3 linked regions of the Homo sapiens genome follow. The protein of the gene in region 1 purifies or fractionates together with the protein of each later gene. This does not show direct contact. Each region holds a gene or a part of one and is shown in the gene's direction. Other genes may lie near its edges. The genes, in order: RGMA, BDP1 and CLK4.

Evidence for each region.
Region 2: the proteins of RGMA (region 1) and BDP1 purify together in Homo sapiens (affinity purification with mass spectrometry; one large-scale study listed by BioGRID and IntAct). This does not show direct contact.
Region 3: the proteins of RGMA (region 1) and CLK4 purify together in Homo sapiens (affinity purification with mass spectrometry; one large-scale study listed by BioGRID and IntAct). This does not show direct contact.

The regions. Positions count from the first base shown.
Region 1 is NC_000015.10:93,087,097-93,090,848, reverse strand, and holds the start of RGMA (repulsive guidance molecule A isoform 3 precursor), read left to right. Parts: upstream 1-1,637; 5' UTR 1,638-1,916; coding exon 1,917-1,930; intron 1,931-2,325; exon of another isoform or gene 2,326-2,568; intron 2,569-3,752.
Region 2 is NC_000005.10:71,458,516-71,462,167, forward strand, and holds part of BDP1 (transcription factor TFIIIB component B'' homolog), read left to right. Parts: intron 1-63; coding exon 64-340; intron 341-3,301; coding exon 3,302-3,411; intron 3,412-3,652. UniProt on the Homo sapiens protein: General activator of RNA polymerase III transcription. Requires for transcription from all three types of polymerase III promoters. Requires for transcription of genes with internal promoter elements and with promoter elements upstream of the initiation site.
Region 3 is NC_000005.10:178,606,542-178,610,193, reverse strand, and holds part of CLK4 (dual specificity protein kinase CLK4), read left to right. Parts: intron 1-1,735; coding exon 1,736-1,818; intron 1,819-3,652. UniProt on the Homo sapiens protein: Dual specificity kinase acting on both serine/threonine and tyrosine-containing substrates.

The DNA.
Region 1 (3,752 bases):
CACCATATTAAGTGCTAGGAATGCAATGATGACTCCAAGGAGTCCTGGTTCCTGCCCTCATGATGCTTATGGTACGGTGGGAGAGGCCAACATGTAGGGAAAGGTCACTCTAATGAGCGCCTAATTACCGAGTGAGCTCAGTGTTAGGAAGGAAAGGCACGGATGTGAGGACTCCCTAGAGGGTGGGGAAGATGTTGGAGCTGAGCTATGAAAGATGAAGAAATTGGTTATTCACTGAATGTCAGGGCACAGAATGTCAGGGCAGGAAGACCACACACACACACACACACACACACACACACACACACACACACACCCTACTATTCATAGATGAGGAAACTGAGGCCCAGCAGAGCTAGATGACTTGCCGAAGGTCAGAGCTAATTCTAGAAACCCATCCCCAATCCCTTCCTGCTAAACCACTTAATTTTATTTATATCCCAGCTATAGATTATACAAATACACTTGACAAATAAAACGGAGAATATTGAGTTAAAACCACATCTCTGAAGACCACACGCATAAATAACGATCGTGTTTTAATGCGGACGATACCTTTTCATTTTGCAAATCCAGAGTTCTCATCATATCAAAATTCAAGACAGTTTGTTCTGTAAGAAGGGGAAGGTCATAACCCTGTCTAGAATGTACTGGCAAATCTCTCTAACCGTGCAGTGCTAATTTGGGCCTGAGCTGTGTAACCAGACCGACTTCACGCTCCAGCTGGGGTTTCAGATCCACACATGGCGATTGGGTGGCTCTTTGCTGTTTCACAGCAAGGGTCCTTCCCTGGGCTCCCGGAGCCTCTGGGGATTTACTGCTCCCGACGTGGCCGTGTTCAAGCCACTGTGTGCATGCGCTTAATGTTGAAAACATTCTTTTGAAAAGCCCAGGAGATTCCACTCGCAATCTGTGCGTGTGCATGTAAAAGCGCAGAGACTGGAAAGAACCGCGGCAGAGCACACCCTGACCGAAGGTTACCGCGGGGGAGCCGCGGCCGTGGGAGAGCCGCGGCCGTGGGAGGGAGTGCGATACGGTCTTTTCACTCTAGACACTCCTGAGTTATGTACAATTCTACGCAAGAATGTATGCGTGTGTTAGCATGTAATACATATGTATTAGTTTTTTCAGGAAGATTCTTAAACAACAACAAAATCTCTATAGAACAAAGGTGCGTCTCCGCAGAGCGCAACAGCATTTGTCTTGGATGTAACCGCCTTCTCCAGAAATCTCAGAGGAACTCCCCTCGACCACCGCCTAACTGAAGGACACCGTGCGCTCCACCGCAACCCTGCGGGCGATTCGGAAAGTTGGAGGCGCCCCGGGGAGTCGCCGCACTTGCCGCCCGCGCCCCCTAACCTGAGCATTCAAGGAGTCTTGACTTGGCCGCTGGCGCACTCCGCACCCACCCAGCCGGTGCTGATGCGGGAGGGTGGGGCCGCGGCGGGGCGGGGCAACGCGAGCCCGCACCCCGCTCCTCCCCGCCCCTCCCTGCCGGCCCCGCCCGCGCGCGCCCCCCGCCCGCGGCCCGGGCGCCCGGCCCGCCCCCTCCCCTCGGCGCGCAAACGAACCTCGCGACGCCGCGCTCGGCGGCGGGCGGGGGCCGGGCGAGGGAGGGGGCTGGTCCCGGCCGCCCCACTCTGCAGTTGTCTCCCGAGCGCTGGCTGCGCCGCCCGAGCCGCTGGGCCGGGGAAGCACTGGCCGTTCGCTCCCGGGCCGGCTCCGCCAGGCGCTCGCAGGCATGCAGCCCGGGAGCAGGAGGCGCTCCCCGGGCCGCTGCTGAGCCGGCCGGGGCGGCGGGGACCAGCGCCAGCGGAGCCCCTCCCACCTTGCCCCGGGGCAGACGAGCGGCGCCCCGACACCCCCTCTTCTCCCGCAGCCCCGCCAGCGCCACCCCCCGCGGGCCGCAGGGGCTCATGCAGCCGCCAAGGTAAGCGCGGGTCGGGAGCCGGGCAGACCCGGCTCTGACATCTCCGAGGCGCCGCCGACACATGCCGGGGCCACGGCGCTGCTTTGGTCTTCCTTAGCCCCGCGTCTCATCTTGCTCCCATCTTGCCCACATTTGGAGCTTTGCTGCGCCTCTATCGCTTTAGCTGTTGGCAGCAGGAAAGTTTTTGTGGTTTGGTGTTTGTTCTTTTTTCCTAAAATACTCTCCCCCGGGCAGCCGCCAGCGCGCGTGGTTGGGCAGACCCGGCACACGTCCCTTACACCGTGTGCGGGCTGGGAGCTCCTTCCCTCAGCCCGGCTCGCGGAGCCCCGGACGGAGCCGGCCACCCGACTGTCCCGCCGTGAACCCCCATTGGCCCGCGCCGCCCGGGCCCCCGCCTCCCGCTCGACGCCCGGCTGCGGAGCTGCCTGGCCATCTCCTGCCCTCGGGGATGTCGGCGCAGTGCACCGCGTGGGCTCGCGTCCCGGCGGCCCTTTGCCTCGGCGCGCCGGCGTACGGGAAGGTGCGGACCTTGGATTGAGGGCCGAGGATGCCCATTGCCAAGCCGCCCCGGCTTTCCTAAGTGGACGGGAGGGCACGGCGACGATTCAGCGCCGGCTCGCGCCGCAGCTCAACCCAGGGTACAAGCCCGGGCATGGGGGACAGGTGTATTCAATGGGAGGGCGGGTGTGGGGGACGCTCGGGTGCAATTCGGGATTGCGTCTTATTAATGTAATTGTATTAGACTTGCTCGGAGGTAGAATCAGTTCTCCCAAATTGAGATTTCTAATGGGAGCCTGTGAGCTGCTATTATGTGGTGTGGTTTTGGGAGGTGTTGGGTTGTATTTATTTTATAAATTGGGTGTCTCGCGGGCGGAGTAGGGGAAGTAGCGCCATCTAGCGGAAGTGGTGAGCTGTGCATTCCTCTTAGGCTGCGAAGTTGTTGGGTGTTCTCAAAGTAGTCTCCCGCACAAGGTGGAGAGGCGGGAACCAGCCCTCGCCTCCAGGAAGGAGGCTACAGAAGCTCTCTGAGTATCGACGGTACCAGGGAGAACCCCGACCTCCCATGCTCAGCACATTGAGCTCAGGGGACGAAATTGCGGGTCGTGTTGAGTGGCATGCTGTCACCTAAAGGAGCTCCATCACCTTCTCTGTTTGGTTTTAGACTCTTCCAGCAAAAACGTAATATAAAATGTTAACTGCTGTAAGAAGATGCCCCTTCCGCAGGTATCTGGTGCAGAGATCTTGAAAACCAATGCACAAACCTCTGTCTTCTCCTGTGCATCACAAACGGGTGATTTCTTGGGTGGATTTTGAGCCATGACCCCTAGAAAAGAGAGTAACTGTGCTCCGAAGGGCAACAGGAGGAGAACTGGGAGAGGGCCTCCTGCCCATTTGTGCAGGAACAGAATAGTGTACCCAAACTGGGTTTTGTGGTTTTTTTTTTTTTTTTTTTTGCACATACAAAGAAGGGGTTTCTTGCTGTTACCACAGCAAGTGACAAGCAAGCCCCCTTTACAGGGACATGATCTCCAATTAACAACTGGGGCAGACGTGGCTGGATGGCAAGTTCTGCAGACAAAGGCTCTGGGTGGGGCACCCACACATCCAGGCGGGCTCCACGTTCTCTGTGGCTGGTTTTTGCTGCCACCTTCCAGGCCAGATAATATATTAGCAGTGAGCTGGGCTCACCCGGTTCTGAAGGGCACCCTGGCCCCTTGTAGAGCAGTGTAGTGGTCTACTGTAGTACCCCCTTGAGACTCTCTGGGCTGTGCTGGTAGTGAAAGAGGTCTTAGCCTCCTTTTTTCAAGTACCCTGCTTCCAT
Region 2 (3,652 bases), on another chromosome or scaffold:
TTAAAACTAGCATGTGTAACAGAAGATTCATGTGCCCTCTTTTTTCTTTTTTAATTTCAACAGTACTGAAAAGACTGGTGGTGACAATGATGTTGAAGAATCCAGTAGATCTTCCTCTACTGTTTCACAGAGAAGAAAGCGAATATCAAGTACTTCTAGCCTGGTTAAGTCTAGTGTCAGTGTTCCTTCAGAATCTCATCCCTTATCTACAATTAATCAAGAGGCTCCACAGCCAACTGCCACTTCAACAAAAGAGAAACAGCCATGCTCAGACAGATACCGAATATACAAAGCCCAGAAACTGAGGGAAATGTTAAAAGAAGAATTGAGAAAAGAGAAGGTAAGGGAGGAGAATCAGGATTTTGATGTTGCCTTCTATTTATGTTAGTAAGGAATCATTGGGAAGAAAAGCATTTGTAGCATTTTGATGGGGGAACAAAACCACATAACATCCCTTAGTCAATAGAACATCCCTTCTTGTTAATGGATTGATTGATACACCGTGGACTTAAATTACATTTTTCACTGATAGTAATTTTTACATTATTTATTTATGTTTTCACTGTTTTTGGTGAAGACCACAAATAAGTTTCATACGCATACACATAGATGCACATACACAAACATATTTATAAAATAAACCTTCAGTCTGATTTTTCACATAAAGATGTCCAAGTGATAAGTGATATATTTATTTGAATTAAGACAAGTATAGGCCGGGCGTGGTGGCTCATGCCTGTAATCCCAGCACTTTGGGAGGACTAGGGGGGCAGATCACTTGAGGTCAGGAGTTCAAGACCAGCCTGGCCAACATGGCAAAACCCTGTCTCTACTAAAAATACAAAAATTAGCTGGGCCTGGTGACGTGCATCTGTAATCCCAACTACTGGGGAGGCTGAGGCATGAGAATTGCTTGAACCTGGGAGGTGGAAGTTGCAGTGAGCCGAGATTGTGCCTCTGCATTCCAGCCTGGGTGATAGAGTGAAACTGTCTCCAAAAAAAAGACGAATATAGTTGAGCAGAATGAATTGGTAATGTTTTCTAAATTGACTATGGAAAATTACAAGTGGGAAAAATTTGTGTTATGCATATATTAGAGTCCATGTTCTTTTTAATCTTGAGGATTGATTTCTTTTCTAGAAGGGCAGGTAACAGCAGTAGAGCATGCTGGCCCTGGAGTTAAATACTTAGGGATTGAATCTCAGCTTCATTTCTTTACTAGCTTTGTGACCTTGGGTAATTTAATTAATCTATTTCCTCATCTGTAAAATAGACCAATAATAGTTCAGGTTGAGCATCCCTGAAATTGAAAATGCTCCAAAGTCTAAAATGTTTTGAGTGCCAAAGTGATGCTCCAGGGAAATGCTCATTGGAGCATATTGGATTTCAAATTTTCAGGTTAGAGATGCTCAGCCAGCATGTATTCTGCAAGTATTCAAAAATGTGAAAAAATCCAAAATGTGAATCATTTCTGGTCTCAAGTATTTCAGATAAGAGATGCTCAACCTCTATCTAGCTCATTAGAGGGTTGTGAAGATTAAATGAGTCAATACATGTAAAACACACTTAAACTGGTGTCTTGGGCCTTGTGCAGTGGCTCACGCCTGTAATCCCAGCACTTTGGGAGGCCGAGGTGGGCGGATCACCTGAGGTCAGGAGTTCGAGACCAGCCTGGCCAACATGGTGAAACCCCGTCTCTACTAAAAATACAAACATTATCTGGTTGTGGTGGTGCACGCCTGTAATCCCAGCTACTCAGGAGGCTGAGACAGGAGAATCGCTTGAACCTGGGAGGCAGAGGTTGCGGTGAGCCAAAATCGTGCCATTGCACTCCAGCATGAGTGACAGAGCGAGACTCCGTCTCAAAAAAAACCAACCAAACAAAAAAACTAGTGTCATGAAAATAGTAAGTGTCCAACCAGTGTCAGCTTCTGTTATGAATTATAAAATGCCTCTTAGTTTTTTTTAAATTAAGGGAAGGCATTTTGCTTGGTGCTTTATATCTGTTATCTTATGTAATTATATCAACTATGTGAAGTAGATATCACTGTTTCACACAGGAGAAAACAAGCTTTCAATTTATGTCTTCTAAAATGTAAGCCTCACAACAATTGCTTGAACCTGGAAGGCGGAGGTTGCAGTGAGCTGAAATTGTGCTACTGCATTCCAGCCTGGGCGACAGATCAAAGCCTCTAAAAATGTTTTATGGGTTGGGAATTGGGGGTGGGGGGATTAAAAAAAAGTTCTGTATTTTACAGAAACTGCTTATTTGCTTATTTAATTTATTTTGGGGAATTAAAGATTAAACATTTGCTTCAAGAATTTTACAAAATACACAGAATTTCAAGTCACTACAGGGTAAAAAAAAAGCTGTGTAAGCATAAATTCTCAGTGAGCTATTAAGATGTTTAGTTAGAAGGCATCAGTAAGCATTTTATACATTGAGCTTTATTAGTTTTATTCTTTGGTTATTTATTTAGTTTTGAGACAAGGTCTCACTGTCACCCAGGATGGAGTGCGCTAGTATAATTGCAGTTCACTGCAGCCTCAACCTCCCAGGCTCAAGTGATCCTCCCACCTCAGCCTCCCAAGTAGCTGTGGCTATAGGCATATGCCACCACATCCAGCTAATTTTTTTGTATTTTTTTGTAGAGATAGGGTCTCATTTATGTTGCCCAGGCTGGTAACTCCTGAGCTCAAGCGATCCTCCTGCCTCAGCCTCCCAAAGTGCTGGGATTAGAGAAATAAGCCACTGTGCCTGGCCACATTGAGCTTTTATCTAGTCCTAGTCACTTTAATTGTTAAAATCTAAATACTGCCTGGGTGTGTGGTTCACTCCAGTGCTTTAGGAGTGTGAGGCAGGAGGATCACTTGAGCCCAGGAATTTGAGAGCAGCCTTGGCAACGTAGGGAGACTCCATCTCTACCAAAAAAAAAAAAACCCCACAAAATTAGCCAGGTGTTAGGCAAGCATCTGTAGTCCCAGCTACTTGGGAGGCTGAGGTGGGAGGACTGCTTGAGCTCAGGAGTTCAAGGCTGCAGTGAGCTATGATTGCGCCACTGCACTTTAGCCTGGATGACAGAGCAAAACCCCATCTCAAAAGTAGATAAATAAAAACTAAAAGCTATTGAGGGTAATGTGCTACAACTTTTTAATATTCCATCTACAAAATTACATAATTGGGGTGAGAATAATATTAAAGCACTTACAGTGAACGCAACAGTGGACTGTATATTTGCATATAGTACATCTGAAATTCTTTAATATTTATAAAAGTGGATCTGTGTGTTTATGTATACAGAAACAATGGAAAAACAAATATGCTATAAATGAAAGTCAGAGGCCACCAGATCGTTCAAAAATGACTATGAGAGACTTCATATATTATCTACCAGATAATAATCCAATGACGTAAGTAAAATTTATTTCTGCTTTACTATCTCTTTTTTTTTTTTTTTTTTTTTGGAGGTGGAGTCTCGCTCTGTCACCCGGGCTGGAGTGCAGTGGTGCAATCTTGGCTCACTGCAACCTCTGCCTCCCAGGTTCAAGCGATTCTCCTGCCTCAGATTCGCGGGTAGCTGGGATTACAGATGCTCGCCACCACACCCGGCTAATTTTTGTATTTTTAGTAGAGACTGGGTTTCGCCATGTT
Region 3 (3,652 bases), on another chromosome or scaffold:
GTCAGCCTCCCAAGTAGCTGGGCTTACAGGTGCCCGCCACCACGCCCAGCTAATTTTTTGTATTTTTAGTAGAGATGGGGTTTCACCACATTGGCCAGGCTGGTCTCCAACTCCTGACCTTGTGATTCACCTGCCTTGGCCTCCCAAAGTGCTGGGATTACAGGTGTGAGCCACCGTGCCTGGTTGAAAAATAAAACTTTTATGAGGTCCAAGCTCTAGCATTTACGGATTTTGTATGTGTTAATAGGTAGAAACCATGCTCCATTATTTATTTATTTATTTTTTGAGACAGAGTCTCACTCTGTTGCCTGGCCTGGAGTGCAGTGGTGCAATCTCAGCTCACTGCAACCTCTGCCTCCCGGGTTCAAGCGATTCTCCTGCCTCAGCCTCCTGAGTAGCTGGGATTACAAGTGCACACCACCACACCCAACTAATTTATATATATATATATATATATATTTTAAAATTTTTATTATTTTTTATTTTTGTTATTTGTTTATTTATTTTTTTGAGATGGAGTTTTGCTTTTATTGCCCAGGCTAGAGTGCAGTGGCGCAATCTCAGCTTACTGCAACCTCTGCCTTCCGGTTTCAAGCCATTCTCCTGCCTCAGCCTCCCAAGTCACTGGGATTACAGGCGTCTGCCACCACGCCCAGCTAATTTTTTTGTATTTTTAGTAGAGACGGGGTTTCACCATGTTGGTCAGACTGGTCTCGAACTGCCAACCTGGTGATCCACCCGCCTCGGCCTCCCAAAGTGCTGGGATTACAGGCATGAGCCACCGCGCCTGGCCCATGCTCTATTATTATCCATTTGTTCAAATGACAGACACTGGAGCGGATGGTTAACAAAAATGACTTAAGTCATTATATATTGACTTGAATATATTTCTTCTTTTATCTTTAACTTCAGTGATAATGAAAGTAATTGAAATGTCTTTGAATGTAGATTTTATTTATACATTTTTTAACTAAATATTTGATCTTTGAAATATTAAAATATCTATGTGGTTGGTTCTTTCTCCTTCCCAGTCAGTATAGATTTAAGAAGGCTAGATGTTTTATTCTGATCTGAATAATACTGTCATTGAGAATTCTGAAGGAGAAAGTATATAAAATCATGTATAGACAGCGCCGATGTTTATGTATAGATCCCTCTCTGAGCTCCAATGTGTCTGTAATTTCTGCTTATAGGTGAAACTGCTTAAAATTCCCATTATACCTTTTATACAATTTGTGCAAAACGGTAATATTTCTCTTAACGGAAGAAGTAAACTCATGCATCAAGCTGATGATAATTGATAAGGCATTAGTAATTTCATTCTGAGGATAATTATAAACCTGTATTTGTGCTAATAAAATATAAAAATTCTTGGACTAACCATGAACTGAGCATAATAATGGTTTTAACAGCAGTGCTCTCCCATTATATAAACAGTTCAGAGACTATGGAATATTTGCACGAATTGGTTGTATACTTGGAAAATGGTAGCCCCCTTTTATTTTACATAACATGCACCCCTCCCTAGTTAGAATACTGTGTCTTGATGTGAGCATATGGACTATGGAGTGTGTTGAATAGCATTTGCTGTAAAACTAGAACTATAAACCCTGAATTTGGTGTCTTATTCTCCCAAATGGGTTCTGTAAAGGGAGCACTCATATAGGGAAGGATTTAATGTACTGTCAATTAAAAGTTTTTGCATAGTAAAATGTTTCTATTTGTTTTAAAATAGCTTTAGGTTGGTCTCAGCCTTGTGATGTTTGGAGCATAGGTTGCATTCTTATTGAATATTACCTTGGTTTCACAGTCTTTCAGGTACGTGGCTAGTAAATTCCATTTAATAATTCATAACAAATTGTAAACGTTAAAGGTATGCTAAAGTTTTGACTTCCATATTGGAAAATTGCCATACATCATTATTCTTGAGATTAAAACTTAGGCAAAATGGTCATTCTTTAAAACCACAGTTGAATGAAATATTACTATGAGTGAGTGATCATAGTTAATTTTGCATGTGATTAGTGTTTGTAACACATGGTTCATATATGGTTCATACTGTCTCCTTTTTTAAATTGTAGAGCTTCTTCATAAATTTGCAGTAGTGTTAATGTGGCCAGTTTTCAGTTATAGTTATGTTGACTATCAATATGGCCATGAACGAGTCACTTATTCCTTTTTATAAAAGAATTCAGAAACAACAAGGGATTGTATTTTACTCTTAAGTATTAAGCATCTATAATGTCTTAGGCATTTCTAAGTATAAGTACATAAAGGTGAAGAGACAACATCTTTCTCAAGTCATGCAAAAGACATTGGAAAGTTATCGCAGTATAGTGTAGCATTTGCTGTGATGGAACAACGTAGAAAGTGTAGGTAGGGAGGGCCAGGCGGGGTAGCTCACACCTGTAATCCCAGCACTTTGGGAGGCTGAGGTGGGTGGATCATGAGGTCAGGAGATCGAGACCATCCTGGCTAACATGGTGAAACCCTGTCTCTACTAAAAGTATAAAAAATTAGCTGGGCGTGGTGGCGGGCGCCTGTAGTCCCAGCTACTCGGGAGGCTGAGGCAGGAGAATGGCGTGAACCTGGGAGGCGGAGCTTGCAGTGAGCGAGATCATGCCACTGCACTCCAGCCTGGACAACAGGGTGAGACTCTGTTGCAAAAAAAAAAAAAAAAAAAAAAGACAAAGTGTAGGTAGGGAGAACCCAGGAAAGGTTAATAATTACTTTAGAGAAGGCGTCACTGAGAACATAGGAAGAGGAGGAGGAGTTAGAAAACTGGAGTGCAATGGGCATATAAGGAAGAAGAAATAGTATCTGTAAATGCACAGAGGAGTAAAGGAACATATTCTACTCAGGGAAGAATAGCGTTGTCAGAGTGTCTTGTATAAATGGGAAAATTATAACAATAGGCAAGGATCAATTCATAAAAGACTTCGCAAGGTATTGGTTTGATCCTAGAAGTCAGTGGATTCCAAAAGTAGACTGGTCCAAAATGAAAATGGTTGTCTAGGTTTGCCATTCTGACCCTTATTTAGAGATTATCCCTCCTGCTTTTTTTTTTTTTAATGTCTCTTTTATGTAATGATAGTCATAGTTGTTGGTAGTTTGCTTTTAAAAATAAAAAGTCCTTAATTGGTAAAACAAAAAGTAGGAAACTCTACTTTCTTTTCCACTCTGTCCTTAAGTTGTACTTACATCTGAAATCTTAATTTTTTTTTTTTTTTCCCTGAGATGGAGTCTCACTGTGTCACCCAGGCTGGAGTGCAGTGGCGCAACGTCAGCTCACTGCAACCTCTGCCTCCCGGGTTCAAGTGATTCTCATGTCTCAGCCTCCCAAGTAGCTGGGATTACAGGCACGAGCCACTACACCCCACTAATTTTTTGTATTTTTAGTAGAGGGTTTTGCTGTGTTGACCAGGCTGGTCTCGAACTCCTGACCTCAAGTGATCTACCCTCCTTGGCCTCCCAAAGTGCTGGGATTACAGGTGTGAGCCACCGCACCCAGCCTGAAATTTAAATTCTTGAAAGCTTTAGGTGATGCAACCATTGAAGAACTTTAAATAGGGTCATGGTATGATCGAGGTGTTGTGTTGTTTTGTTTGGGGAAGAGGGGCTGGAGATCCCAGCTAGTACTGTTGAGGTTGAT